Linked DNA regions of Homo sapiens. The protein of the gene in region 1 purifies or fractionates together with the protein of each later gene. This does not show direct contact. Each region holds a gene or a part of one and is shown on either strand. Other genes may lie near its edges.

What was found. Proteins that work in one complex are often made in the same cells at the same time.
Region 2: the proteins of YKT6 (region 1) and NAPA purify together in Homo sapiens (affinity purification with mass spectrometry; 2 studies listed by BioGRID and IntAct, with this or other methods). This does not show direct contact.
Region 3: the proteins of YKT6 (region 1) and C1QL1 purify together in Homo sapiens (affinity purification with mass spectrometry; 2 studies listed by BioGRID and IntAct, with this or other methods). This does not show direct contact.
Region 4: the proteins of YKT6 (region 1) and TAGLN3 fractionate together in Homo sapiens (co-fractionation; one large-scale study listed by BioGRID). This does not show direct contact.

What each region holds. Positions count from the first base shown.
Region 1 is NC_000007.14:44,203,892-44,207,522, forward strand, and holds part of YKT6 (synaptobrevin homolog YKT6), read left to right. Parts: intron 1-676; coding exon 677-759; intron 760-2,493; coding exon 2,494-2,594; intron 2,595-3,496; coding exon 3,497-3,601; intron 3,602-3,631. UniProt on the Homo sapiens protein: Vesicular soluble NSF attachment protein receptor (v-SNARE) mediating vesicle docking and fusion to a specific acceptor cellular compartment. Functions in endoplasmic reticulum to Golgi transport; as part of a SNARE complex composed of GOSR1, GOSR2 and STX5.
Region 2 is NC_000019.10:47,501,532-47,505,162, reverse strand, and holds part of NAPA (alpha-soluble NSF attachment protein), read left to right. Parts: intron 1-1,660; coding exon 1,661-1,740; intron 1,741-3,565; exon of another isoform or gene 3,566-3,631. UniProt on the Homo sapiens protein: Required for vesicular transport between the endoplasmic reticulum and the Golgi apparatus. Together with GNA12 promotes CDH5 localization to plasma membrane.
Region 3 is NC_000017.11:44,959,161-44,962,347, reverse strand, and holds the end of C1QL1 (C1q-related factor precursor), read left to right. Parts: intron 1-1,980; coding exon 1,981-2,160; 3' UTR 2,161-2,655; downstream 2,656-3,187. UniProt on the Homo sapiens protein: May regulate the number of excitatory synapses that are formed on hippocampus neurons. Has no effect on inhibitory synapses.
Region 4 is NC_000003.12:111,997,643-112,001,753, forward strand, and holds the start of TAGLN3 (transgelin-3), read left to right. Parts: upstream 1-1,279; 5' UTR 1,280-1,472; intron 1,473-1,604; exon of another isoform or gene 1,605-1,778; 5' UTR 1,779-1,780; coding exon 1,781-1,960; intron 1,961-3,129; coding exon 3,130-3,304; intron 3,305-4,111.

The sequences.
Region 1 (3,631 bases):
TCTGGCTGTACCATCTCCTGTGACTGTTCTGTTCTGGATAGATCTCTCTGTTGAGCCCATGATGGACCTTCTCCCTTTCACCCTTTGTATGAGCCATTTCCCACTTCTTTGTCTTGGATGAGCAGTTTTCCTTTTGTTCCATCCAGAGTGTCTTGCGCTCGTTCTGTGGACGAGCCCCAGCAGACCTGAGCCAGCACTCACTATGGGTGTATGTGGCATTGCGAGGGTCTGTCATGTGGACACAGCCATAAATGGTTGTGCATTTCTGCCTGACAGTTTTTGCACACTATTCTTCTAGTGCAGTTCTTATAAATGTCCTGCTTCTTGGAAGTTATTGGGACCTTGAGAGCAGGACCTGCCTCTTGTTTTTCCATTGCATTCCAAATTATGCATTCACCAAAATGTAAAATTGACTGTATCCTGTGGAAAAACCCCCCAGAAAATTCACCTGTTTTGGTGAGCCAGGTAGCAAACAGATGGAGCTTTCATGGTGATGATAATTCATAATTATCAGTATTTGTGCTCATTTATAGAGTGTTTGTTACTAGGGATGGGAGGGAAAGGAATGAAACCAAGAAGCAATGTCTACTTAATGTATAAGCCCAGAGGTCACTTTCCACTGTGTTGGGGACAAGGTGATAAGAAGTAGGCAATAAATACATTTTGTGTTTCTTAGCGTTCAGGAATTCATGACCTTCACGAGTCAACTGATTGTGGAGCGCTCATCGAAAGGCACTAGAGCTTCTGTCAAAGAACAAGGTAAGAAGACCCTCCAACTTCTGTGCGTGTGCTGGCCTGGCTGCCATGCCTCACCTCACATAGCACCCAGCTTTCTCCTTTCTACTGGGACCCTACTCCTCCTCTAGCTTGTTCTCTCTTTCCCACCTCTTCCTTTTCCTATTTATGCAGAATTCTGTGCCCACTGTTGAAGTCTGAGCTTCCCAGATAAAATTGCCCTCAAACTTAGACTCATTTAAGATTAGGGTCTGACTCTTTTGGAGCAGTAAGCAGCCTTCATATCGTATTCTTCCCTATCCTCTTCAGAGTTGCAGACCCCTCAAAAAAGGATTTCCAGCTAGCACTGTTGAGGTACTATATGTATTCTGTGCATCGTAGATTTTTTGATCAGGAATCTGAAAAAACTATTTTTTCTTTCTGATAATTCAGGTTTAGGCATTTATTTAGATGTGTATGTTATACAGACAGATCAGGAAAGAGTTACATGAGTTTCATCAGGTAGGGACAAAGATCATCTCACACTTATGCTAACCTCAAGTCACGTGACATAGAGTTACTGAATTGATGATATAAATGTCAGTTATGATACAGGCAGGATTGACTATATACACTTTATGTGGGATCTCTGTGCTATTAACATCATAGAAGTGAAATCGCATCACAAATATTTCAGTGTTCTTGCTCTGTTCTTCAAACTGTGCCTGCCCTTCCCACGTTTATTACTTAAAGACAATTCCTCCACTGACCAGGTTCTCAGTTTCTTTGGAGGGTATGCACTTTGACCCCATGTTTGAATCTTAATTGGGGATGGTATACAAAATCTGGAGAGCATTGGTGACAACCCCCTGTCCTCTTCCTCCTCCTCATTCTTGTTCTCATTTATCTCTGCTCTTTTCTGATTTCAGGGGCTCACCATCATTCCCTCCTCTTTTATTTGTTTTTCTGTTGTTTAGCATTGGAATCTTCTGGGTCAGATCCTTAAGGACAAGAAGGTTCTTATTTGTAAGCTGTAATCCTTACATTTCTCTTTCCTTGGGGATATGGTTAGCTGTATCAACTCTGAATCCTTTCAAAGTGATGGAAATGAACAATCCTGTGGATTGTGAATATTTTGCGGAAGACCTGTACAACTGTACCTTTCAATCATATGAGGATTTTAGCACAGTGCTCTGGAGGCCTTAGCTGGCAGTAGCTAATCTTTTTCTAGACTAACCCCCCTACTCCCAGTCACCCACCAGAGTGGAGCAAACCCAGCAGGTTGCTATAATATGGAAGACTGAGGCCCTGGGGGGTAATTTCCTGTCTTTTGGCTGCTCTGAAAAGATTTTTTAAGAAAGCAGAGGCCTCTTGGCTTGTCCAGGGTTCCCTAAGTTTGGGAGCAGCACAGAGCCCCAAGGGCTCCAGATCCCTAAGATATAGCTTGGCCTGACCCGAGCTTAAGGAATACACTTGGAAATGCTCCTGGGGCCATGTTGTCAAGGGTGTGTTTTCTGCACCACTGGCTGTTTCTTTAAGCCCTGGCTTTGCATACTGGGCCTCTGGGTATTTACTGGTCCTAAAGCAGGCGTTGGGCCAAGCTCCTGTGTGTGGCCCATTGGGCTGTGCTGCTAAGCCTCTCCACAAGACTTGCCCAGAGCTATTGAGCTTCCGAGTGGCTTCATTTGGCCTAACATTGGATGCTTTGATTTGGGGGGATTAAAAGAAGTCTGAAGCCCTCATGTCAGCATCCATGTGTCTGATCTCTTGTCTCCTTAGACTATCTGTGCCACGTCTACGTCCGGAATGATAGTCTTGCAGGTGTGGTCATTGCTGACAATGAATACCCATCCCGGGTGGCCTTTACCTTGCTGGAGAAGGTGAGTTTTTTATTTGCCTCTCCTGGACTTGGATGATGAATGGGCACATTTATGGACTGGGACAGGGGTTGATGGCAGTCCCTGAGACATAAGGGATGAAATGATGTGTCCAAAGTCAACACATTTTTCAGCCCCCTTCCCTGCAACCCAAGAGACAATTTGGCATCCCTGTATGGGTTTCCTCCCCGGTGCTGTCCCTCATGTGAGCTGGGTCTAGGCCACTGAGTCATAGCATCTATTCTCTGGGATGGGACCCTCGGAGACAGCTGTGCCTTGTGTTCTCGCCCCCTGTGCTTCTGCTCAAGGAGTCTCCCTCTTGAATGCCTTCACTCTCCCCATTGCCTCCTGCAGTTGCTGCATCCCTCTACCTTGATGTCAGTCAGTTGCACCACAGAGCTTAGCACCTAAGCATTCTTTAAATTTTTTTGCGTACGGTGCTAATTACTAATATTAACTCTTTGAAGTCAGAGGCTTCATCCTATACCCCAGAGCACCAAAATACCTCCAAACACATGGAATCTGGTGGTTTCTTAAATCTAGGGGACCTAATTCTCTTTTTTAAAAAATTGCTTTGGAAAATTAGAGGACCAGTGCCCCTTTTTTCTGGAAATCTGTAGTTTAAAATTCAAATACCTTTATTACTCCCCAAGTGAGGTTCATCTCGGGCTGGGCATACTTTTGATTCTCAGAATATTTAGGATATGTTTTAATGATAAAAATTTGGAAAGAACTTTAGCCTAGATTTTCTCTGTTGCCATTATATGTCCCCCTCATTCCTCCTTCCTGGGCTGTGAAGGCCAAGGAGCCTCATTCAGGGTGAGGTGCTCAGGGGTGAAGCCCTGTCATTGAGACCACTGGTGAGTGCACAGTGGGAGGCTTGTTGAGTCTCCTTTGTCTTGCAGGTACTAGATGAATTCTCCAAGCAAGTCGACAGGATAGACTGGCCAGTAGGATCCCCTGCTACAATCCATTACCCAGCCCTGGATGGTCACCTCAGTAGATACCAGGTAGGGTTAAAGGAAGCTTCAGCAGACACC
Region 2 (3,631 bases), on another chromosome or scaffold:
ATTCTACTGATTATGTAGATATTGGGAGTTTGAGCAGTTACAGAGACTACAGACCTCGCGGGCTAAGCCTGGTTGTATTATTAAGGGCAGAAGAATGCAGTGGGACTTACGGGTTTGAGGTACTAATGAGGTCCCCCAAGTCAAGAGGAGGCTCATTATGTACATGTGGAGGTCAAGAAGCCAGAGTGAAGCTGCCCAAACAGGGTACCCTTTATGTTTTCAAATTCCTGTCTATCTCCCAGTGTATCCCTACTGTTGGACAATAAGTTTTTGGGGGGTTTTGCTGTTTTAAATAATGCTATGCTGAACATCCTTGTAACTTTTCTGATTAGTTTTTTTAGGATAAATTGCTAGAGATGTAATTCATTGCTGGACCACAGGGCCAAATATAAATCCTAATACTTAAAAATATGTGTGTGTGTGTGTCTGTGTATGTGTAAATGTATAGATATATACACACATATATACACATACACATATATACACATGTGTATATATGTACACGTGTGTGTATATATGTATATATTTTTTTTCTCGAAAAGATGTACAAACAGTTAAAAAAAAATTCAGACAGTACAAATACGGGATGTCCAGTGAATAAGTCTGCCTCCCACACCTGGCCCTCCTTCTGCAGGCTTCACCTTAAGAGAAAAATGCTGTTACTAGGTTTTTGTGTATTTGCCCAGAAATATCCTATGTTTATATAAACATGTATGTTTCTATTATTTTCACTCTCTTTCTCTTTTTTTTTTTTTTTTTTTTTTTGAGACAAGGTCTGGCTCTGTCGTCGTCCAGGCTGGAGTTCAATGGTGTGATCTTGGCTTACTGCAACCTCTGCCTCCCAGGCTCAAGTGATCCTCCCACATCAGCCTCTCTAGTAGCTAGGACTACAGGCGTGCACCATCACACCCTGCTAATTTTTTGTATTTTTTGTAGAGTTGGGGTTTTGCCGTGTGGCCCAGGCTGGTCTCGAACTCTTGAGCTCAAGCAATCCGCCAACCTTGGCCTCCCAAAGTGTTGGGATTACAGGAGCCATGAACCACCACACCCAGCCCACCCTCTTTTTTTTTTAAACACAAATGGGAACATCTTATATCTACACTTTAAAATAGTGCTTCCCATTTCTTTGTATGGCTGTGTGATATATATGCCCAGTCCTGAGCTGGTAATGACACACTCCAGGGCTGCAAGGTCTTTATTGAGCAACCACAGAGTGCAAGGCACAGGATTAAGGCTGCCTCTGCGAAAGCAACACGATGTCTTAAACTGGGCTAGTCCCCCAGAATGCTTTGCAGTCTCCCGGGGAAAGGGGATTTGTAGCGCGCCTGGGACCCAGTGGGCCCCTAGTATCCCAGGCAGGAAGTAGAAGAGGCTGTCAGACCCTGGGGTTGTGGTGGGGTCAGGAACTCTTCGCCCCACTACCCCAGCAAGCACCCAGTATCTACCCCAGTACTCCCGGAGGGAGCTGGTCTGCCCGAAGTGAGTGTGCCATTGTATGCAGGGGCGGGGGCCACAGACTCAAGAGGCCTGGGGGAAGCTGGCTTCACAGGTGAAGGGTGAGGGGTAGGGGCACGTCTGTGCCCGGCACTGGAGCAGAATGCTTGCTTTCTCCTGGATAGCCGACTAGATTGTCTCCTTTTTTTCTTTCCTTTTTCCCCAGAGGCTCATCCAAAATAGAGGAAGCATGCGAAATCTACGCCAGAGCAGCAAACATGTTCAAAATGGCCAAAAACTGGAGTGGTATGTCATCTCCGCTAGAGCTCCTCCAAGGTGCTCTCCTCCTCCCTCAGCTTCCACTCACACAGGCCTGCCCGAGAGGTTGGCCTTGAGGGCCCTTTCTCTTTGTATGCCCTCTCCGGCATCGGAAAGCCACTGGCCTGCTCTCTTGTTTTGTGCCTGCTGGGTTACTTTATACTCTGGGTCATGGGGCCTTGGTGAAAGGACAGAGAGGATGGGAATAAATAGATTATTAGACCTAGATAAACCCATGTGGATTGATGAGCTCTTAGAGTCCTCCTTAAATTCAGAACTTCAGGTTTCCTGGTAACTTCCTTAGTGCTTCCATCAGTGTCTAAATTCTAGGCTGGGGGAGGATGTTCAGGTGATTCCAATAACAACGTGAATCATGGCTGCTGTTTGTTGAGTCCTAAGTGCTCATCATTTAATTGCGTTAGCACAGCAGCCCTAAGGGTCAGTCTATAAATATCCCTATTTTACAGATTTGGAAACTGAGGCTTGGCTTAGTCTCTTGCCCAGGATGCCAGAACTAGTAAGTGACAGAACCAAGATTCAGAAACCAAGGCTCTGACTGCAGAGCCTGAGTGTTTAACCTGCCCCAGTGAGGCAGGATAGCTTCACAGAGGAGAGGGGTGGGGAGGAGCCCCTTGGGCTCAGGGAGGCTGGAGATCTGTTTGGAGCTCCCTGCAGGCCCAAGAAGTCCAACAAGCCAGTGTGTTGAGCCCTTTCGAGGCTCATTTCATCATACATCTTTCATGTCACCAAGATTGAATTAAGGAAATACGGCAAGAGACCCAGTGTTTGAATGCAGGGAGGAACTTCTGACTGTGGAGGAGAGGGAACCTGGTGGTGGGACCATGGAGGCAGGGTGCAGAGGTGCACAATAAAATTGATTATCATCGTTTTTGAGAATGTTGTTGGTTTCCCCAAAATTCAAAGAGTTATTCCTGAGTTTTCACAAAATACGTTGTGAATAAAGCCAAATGTTTTTTGTATTTTTATGCTCCCAAACTTAGAAAATTCCTCTAGAGAAAAAAAGCTTATTTTTTAATTACATAGGTGTTGCTTTTCCCCTAAAATTTGTTACCTCTGCCCCCAAACTCTTCAAAGAAAAGCCCTAGGCCATTTCCCCCCGGTAATATCCCCTTTTCTTGAAATTTTTTTTTTTTTTTTTTTTTTTTTTTTTTTGAGACAGTCTTGCTCTGTTGCCAGGCTGGAGTGCAGTGGCGCGATCTTGGCTCACTGCAACCTCCGCCTCCCTGGTTCAAGTGATTCTCCTGCCTCAGCCTCTTGACTAGCTGGGATTACAGGCACGTGCCACTACGCCCAGCTTATTTTTGTATTTTTAGTAGAGACAGAGTTTTACCATGTTGTCCAGGATGGTCTCCATCTCCTGATCTCGTGATCCGCCCACCTCGGCCTCCCAAAGTGCTGGGATTACAGGCATGAGCCACCGCGCCTGGCCGTAATTTTATACTCAAATTTGGAACTCTTGAAAATAATGAAATCATATAGTGAAAACCCGGAAGGCTTTGTCTTTTCTGCTGCTCAAAACTTAAGAGGATAGGGCCAGGCCTCCTGGTCCTCTTCCAGCTTAGAAACTCTGACTCAGATTCAGCTGGAGGAGAATGAAGGGGAGAAGCCTCAGAGCTGAGCTGGAGGTGGTCAGCTGCACGAGGAGGAGGAGAGATGCTGCTGCCTCCCAAACGTCAGTTAGGAGATGTGTGGGCAGAATGGCTTGGGACCCACAGAAGCTGACCGTGTGCAGATGAGCACAGGATGGATGAGGCTTCAGGCACGGTCTCTTCTGCCCTCCGCCCATGGGCACTGGTCTGCATGTATTCATTCTTGCTGTCCACATCCTGTTTCCCTCTCTGGACATGCAGCTCCTGGA
Region 3 (3,187 bases), on another chromosome or scaffold:
GCTTTAAAGGGAGGCCCTCATGCAAATATGTCGGGTCCTCTTCATTGCAGCATCGCGGCTGAGTCAGCAGCTCTGGCACAGCTGACCTGCAGTGCTGCCTCCAGCCCAGGAGAGAGGATGGGCCCCTCCCCTAATTTGGCTTGGTTCTACCCAGACTTCAGCCCTGGGAGTTGGGATGGTAAGCTGCCTTCAGTGAAGGGACAGGATAGAGAGGGGCCGTGGAGAAACCTGGCTGAGAGAACTCCACTCAGTGCAGCCTCCCCACACCACAAGCCACAGTCCTGGAGAGGGCGCTTCTCTTCCATGTCTCTACCCAGGATACCCTGGAGAGGCCCCGATCCTCAAACTCAGGACTTATGTTTCCATACCTGTTAGCTGAATGTCTGTAGATCATTCGTTCACCACCACACAATCTCTCTCTCTCTCTCTCTCTCTCTTTTTTTTTTTTTTTTTTTGAGACGGAGTCTCGCTCTGTCGCCCAGGCCGGACTGCGGACTGCAGTGGCGCAATCTCGGCTCACTGCAAGCTCCGCTTCCCGGGTTCACGCCATTCTCCTGCCTCAGCCTCCCCAGTAGCTGGGACTACAGGCGCCCGCCACCGCGCCCGGCTAATTTTTTGTATTTTTAGTAGAGACGGGGTTTCACCTTGTTAGCCAGGATGGTCTCGATCTCCTGACCTCATGATCCACCCGCCTCGGCCTCCCAAAGTGCTGGGATTACAGGCGTGAGCCACCGCGCCTGGCCTTTTTTTTTTTTTGAGACTGAGTCTCACTATGTCGCCCAGGCTGGAGCGCAGTGGCATGATCTCGGCTCACTGCAGCCTCCATTTCCCAGGTTCAAGTGATTCTCCTGCCTCAGCCTCCCCAGGAGCTGGGATTACAGGCGTGCCACTATGCCTAGCTAATTTTTGTATTTTTAGTAGAGATGGGGGTCTCACCATATTGGCCAGGCTGTTCTCGAACTCCTGACCTCAAATGATCCACCTGCCTGGGCCTCCCAAAGTGCTGGGATCACAGGCATGAGCCACCGTATGCAGCCACCACACAATCTCTTATGATTATAGTCAGAGCCCCCAAAAGTGACGGCAGGCTCCAAGCCCAAATGCTGGTGCTCCCTTGACCCATTATCCTGCCTGTCCCTCCCCATCCCCCATCAAGGCAGGGACCAGCAAGGATGTCACATCAGACTGAGAATCCCAGAGGGAAGTAAGGCCTGGATTCCCTTCTTCCCACCCAGTTCCTTTCTACCACCCTGAGGTGAGACAGGAGGAGCTACAATCCTCTTTGGGTGGGTAGTGACAGGTACATAGCTACAGCTCCATGGAGGCTGGCACCCAGGCCCCTTCTAAACTCTGGGAGGGGAAAGCATTACCAGGCCTTCTGTCTCACTGCTGCAGCAGGAGAGACTCTGGAATGCACTTCAGACCAAAGACCTGGCCCTGGTTCCAGGGTGGTTGCTGACTGGCAGCCTGGCATTGGTCCAGCTGCCTGACCTGTGGGGCCAAGGTGTGCCCTTGTGTCCATCCACTGACATAAGATCCAGCGGGTGTGGCTGAAACGATGGCATCATTATGAAAGCAGAGAGGAAGGAATGATGAGAGTAGGGAAGGCCCTCCATTCCCTGGAGGTCCAGAGAATTCCTCTTTGCAAGGACAGGCTTCCAGGCTTCCTGGAGGTATTGAGGTTCTCAGCCAGCTGGAGGGAAAGCCCTATAAGAGTTAAGGAGGAAGACTCTGCCTTGACTCCCAATTCAGGCCCAGATCAGACCTGCCCTAGAAATCCAGGGATCCTCTCTGCCCCTTTCCTGAAACAAGTCCTGTATGATTGGAAGGGGGCGGGGGAGGGGGAGCGTGGCAGGGATGAGGCGAGGCTGGAGGCCAGGTTTCTGGGTCTGCTGATCCTCCCCCACGGGACTGCCTCACCTCCCTCCCTTCTCATCCTCTCTCTCCTCTCGCCCTCCCTCCCGTGTCCCCCACCCGCAGGTGCGGGCCAGTGCTATTGCCCAGGACGCGGACCAGAACTACGACTACGCCAGCAACAGCGTGATCCTGCACCTGGACGCCGGCGACGAGGTCTTCATCAAGCTGGATGGAGGCAAAGCACACGGCGGCAACAGCAACAAATACAGCACGTTCTCTGGCTTCATCATCTACTCCGACTGAGCTCCCCACGTCTCCCTCCACCCACGTCCCTCACCCGCCGGGGTCCCCTCCGGGCGGGGCAGACGATGACTCGCCCCTCGCCCACCCGCTCGCTGCCCGGCCCTCCCCGGCTATGACGCCCCCGGCCCGTGCTCAACACCGCCTGGGCCACAGCTAGGCCCTCCCACCGGCTCGCTGCAGAGCCGGGCCCAGCGCGCCCTGTCCCCGTGCCAGGGAACCGGGGTTGACCGCCCCCGCCCAGCCCGCGCTATATATTTGTACAATAGGACTGTTTACTGCCCACCTCCGCCTGCCAGCCCACCCCAGCCTGGGGAGAGGTCGCGGCGGCGGGTTTGCTTCCTGCGCTCTGAGATGAGCTGCCCTCCGCTCCCTCCGGGGTGGCGCGCCCGGGGGAGGGGGGAGTTGGGGGCTGGATAGCTTCCCAGCACCCTCAGAGCCCCCGCCCGGCTGTGCCCCGTCTGACCAAAGTTATAATAAAAACATTTTCACCCCGCAGGGGTTTCAGTCTGTGCCCTGGGGAGGGCTGCGGGAGGCGACGGTGGACCGTGCCCTCCTCCAGATTAGGAAGGGGTCTGGTGGAAGTTTCTAGGGGAAACCAGGTGCCAGAGCCAGAGCTACTCCAAGAAGAAGTTGCCAAAGGGCCTAAAGCCCACCACAACCCAAGTGGGCCTGGGCAGCTGGGATGGGAAGCAGCCCAGTTACTTCATCATCTTCCATGGTGGACACATTCCTTTTTTTTTTTTTTTTTTTTTTAGACGGAGTCTCGCTCTGTTGCCAGGCTGGAGTGCAATGGCAAGATCTCGGCTCCCTGCAACCTCCGCCTCCCGGGTTCAAGCGATTCTCCTGCCTCAGCCTCCCGAGTAGCTGGGAATACAGGCGCACACCACCACGCCCAGCTAATTTTTGTATTTTTAGTAGAGATGGGGTTTCACCATGTTGGCCAGGCTGGTCTCAATCTCCTGACCTCATGATCCGCCTGCCTCAGCCTCCCAAAGTGCTGGGATTACAGGCGGGAGCCTCGCTGAAA
Region 4 (4,111 bases), on another chromosome or scaffold:
CATAGCTTCTAATCAATTTCCCACAGGGACAAAGATCATCATCCCATGTACCCAGAATTGCTTTATTTAATATGCTTGAGTCAATTTATCAATCTGTTTTCAATGCAAGAATTGTATTTTATTCCTCCTCAGTCCAGTAGTTGGCATAAACACTCAGTAAATATCTGTTGAATGAAGAAATGAACCAAACGAAAAAAAATGTGGAATTTTTCTCATGAAAAACACCCAGAGAATTACACAACACCAATGAGACTCAATCTTTACCCACAAATGGCTTACAGTCTAGGAGGACAAACTGCCAAGCCCTTTAGCTGTTATAAAAATGTGGGGCCAACTTAGAGCTAATGGTTTCTCCTGAGTGCTTGTTTGCCCATGAGAAATATTCAGTTACTTCTGACAATATGTCGGTTGTGCCTTCACGGTCCTTACTTCAGATGAAGTCTTTACATTCTATCAAAACCTTTCACTCTAAGAGTTCTTAGTCGTTGAGTTTTGTTTAATTTATAAAACTTGCCGGGCGTGGTGGCTCATGCCTGTAATCCCAGAACTTTGGGAGGCCGAGGCAGTCAGATCACCTGAGGTCAGGAGTTCAAGACCAGCCTGACCAACGTGGCAAAACCCCATCTCCACTAAAAATACAAAAATTAGCCAGGCCTGGTGGCACACACCTGTAATCCTAGCTACCTGGGAGGCTGAGGCAGGAGAATCGCTTGAACCCAGGAGGCAGAGGTTGCAGCCAGCCGAGATTGTGCCACTGCACTCCAGCCTGGGCAACAGAGCGAGACTCTGTCTAAAAATATATAGTAAGAATTATAATAATAATTTATAAAACTTGTTCTTAGTGTCTTTCAGTTAAGAGTAGCATGAAAAAAATACCTCCCTTGAATAAGTCAAACTGAGGCACAACAGTTTCAGGATGGAAGTTTCTGGGTGAAGTTGGGCTGGCAGCTGAACAAGTAAATGATAGCAGCTCTCAGTCCCTCCCCTCCTGTCCTGCCAGACAGTTGTTACCTCAGGGCAGGGGGAAAGTAGCTTGGCTATTCCCGACAGATGGACAGTTGGTAGAACGGACCCTCCCACAGGCCCTCATCCCCTTGTGCAGCTGCTGGCCTCGTAGACAATCGGCTGTCTCCCCAGAAGAGGGAAAGAATTGTGCAGATGAGAAAGAGGCTCTCAGCGGGAGGGAGGCAGGCGGGCTTGATTGACACAGGAGAGGGCTGGCTTTTTGGAGGGCTCTTAGCAACGGCCCTGGTTGAGCCCCCTCAGCCATGAGAAAATCAAATCAATGTGCCATTCTTCCAGGCGCGAGGCAGCAGCGGCTGCAGTTCAACATGAAAGGAGGCTTCCTCCCTGCCTGCTAATTACCTGCTCTTCCCGATCTCATCGTTTCTGCCTTTGCAAAGTGCTACTGAGAAGGGGGAAGAAACGTCCGCCACCCATCCCCCTTGCTGCCTGGGGGTTCAGACTTGATTGTGAGTCCGTGTTATATCATCTGGTCTCATTGATAGGCGGGATAGGGAGGGGGATTCCAGCCCCCCTGGACCGGCCGGAGGTTTATTCTAGAGTTACTGGCGGGTAGCTGTGCTTTTCTTTCCCGTTTGTAGGTGAAACCCCATTGGCTTCATTGGCTCCTTGATTTAAACCACGCCCGGCTTTCTGCCCTCTTTGCTGCTGCTGGGCCAGGTTGCCCAGCCATATCCCAGCCCCGTCTGCAGGGAGCCGGAGGCTGCTGCTGCTGCTATTGTGTGGATGCCGCGCGTGTCTTCTCTTCTTTCCAGAGATGGCTAACAGGGGCCCGAGCTATGGCTTAAGCCGAGAGGTGCAGGAGAAGATCGAGCAGAAGTATGATGCGGACCTGGAGAACAAGCTGGTGGACTGGATCATCCTGCAGTGCGCCGAGGACATAGAGCACCCGCCCCCCGGCAGGGCCCATTTTCAGAAATGGTTAATGGACGGGACGGTAAGGCCGGCAGCGATCTCGGTTGCTGGGGCGGTGGGCAGGGAAACCCTCCAGGGCCCTTTCTTTTAACGTAAGGCTGCGGGAAGAGCTGCTGTTGCCAAGCTCTATGTCTCACCGGGAGGGGATGAGAATGCCTTTATTTCTTCAGGGTTGGAAGATTTGGGCTCCATGCACTATTCCCTAGCTAGCTTGGGGGTTCTCCACTCACCCTAGCATTACATCTCCCTTCTGAGTTGGCAAATTCGAAGCCCTTTTGATTTTTCTAATGAGAATAGAGATAAGTATGTCCTTGTAATTTCCCCAGCCTTCCTGGTGCATCAGCTCTTCTGGGGCCATTTCTTTCCCTAGGGGATCGTGTTGGTTACACAGTAAAACAAAGAAGGGAGGAGGGGGACTAGCCACCTTCACATTCTTGTGGGAGCCATGCACCCTGGAAGTGTTCAGTGTCTGTTTATTGAGTGGATGCGTTCTCATGAAACTGAAAGGAGTCCTTATTTGTTAACTGCATTTCTGACCAAATGCTCGTGTGTGTTTGAGGGTTTGAGGGCCGCAGGCTCTGTGATTCAAACAAGCCCATCCTTTCCTGCAGTCTGTGATTTACTGTTACATAACTGCTATCCAATGCTTCTGCTGGGTTGCCCAGAGCTTGGGTTATATATATATATCTGGGAAAAAGGTACCACATCCACTTCTTTTACACATTGTTAAAATATATGGGATGAGTAAATTGAAGCCTGCTTAATTTGCCTTTTGATAGAAGAAATAATATTAGACTCTATCATTTGAGCTCTGCCAACCTCAGGAGCCACTAAGTCATTCCTCCTTTGAAAGTCTAGAATCACGTCCTCATCACGTCACATCATTCCCTATCTGTAAACATCCTTTCCCTCATCCAGAAAAAGGAAGGGAGGAACAGGGAGGGAATGGCGCTCCCAGGCTACAGGAATCTCTGTAGTAAGGAGCAGCATTAGGAATGGGGTCCTCTGGGTCTTTGGGGCTTAGTATAGGAGCCTGGCTACACAGCCCAGAGCCCGTGCCTTCCTAGGGCCCATGACTTGCTCCTGCCCAAACTGGATGAGCAGTGTCCCACGTGAGCAGGATTCACTTCTCATTCTTGACCTGTAAATACAAAGGGAAACATTGATTCTGTCTCTCCCCTCCCTCTTCAGGTCCTGTGCAAGCTGATAAATAGTTTATACCCACCAGGACAAGAGCCCATACCCAAGATCTCAGAGTCAAAGATGGCTTTTAAGCAGATGGAGCAAATCTCCCAGTTCCTAAAAGCTGCGGAGACCTATGGTGTCAGAACCACCGACATCTTTCAGACGGTGGATCTATGGGAAGGTAAACAGCCCCCTGGCCTTTGGGATTGTTCTTTTCTTCTCTCCTTTGCCCCATCTCCTTGTAAAAACTGCTCACAGTGTTCTTCCCTGTGCCGATTGATGTGTGTAAGATGCTCTCAGCTGTTATCCTGGGGGCAGTGTTTGCCTTCCCCATTGTTATGTTCTATTAAAAGGAGGTACCCTCTTCTAATGGAACACACACCCTGAGGACACAGAGGGGATCTCAGCAACTAATGTAAACAGAAGCCTCAAGCTAGAGGAAGCTAACGGTGACATACTGCCTTTTATTCCTCTTACCACTCCCATAACAAATCACAGCTACCAGAGGAGAAGGGAGGCAGGGGGCCAGTGTGCTTCTTGCTCAACTGCAGCTTATAGACAAAGCCATCTGGGGCTATTTTGTCAATCTGAGAAATAGATAGCACTCCAACCTTTTGTTAAACCTTTATCTGGGAGCTTGGTGACTATGCCTTCCAGATATGCATTCTGCTCAGTGTGACAAGTGCTTGTTTCCTTCACATTTGTGAATTGACTTGCTGAGGAAATCTTACAAAAGCATAAAAATCAAATCACACTCCTGGATGTATTTAATGATCTGCCATTACTGGGGGAAATGATGTGAATGGAGACACTGCCAGAGAATTTGGGACCTATGGTCATGGTGTCGTTAATGTCCCCTTTAGCGAAAATGTGTATACCCAACCATATGACTGTGTTCCTTCTCCACTAGGCCTGCCTGAGGCACCAAGAGATACCAACTAGTCAGAGCAGGACTGTCAGATTGACTCTGCTCTCACATGCTCTTTGT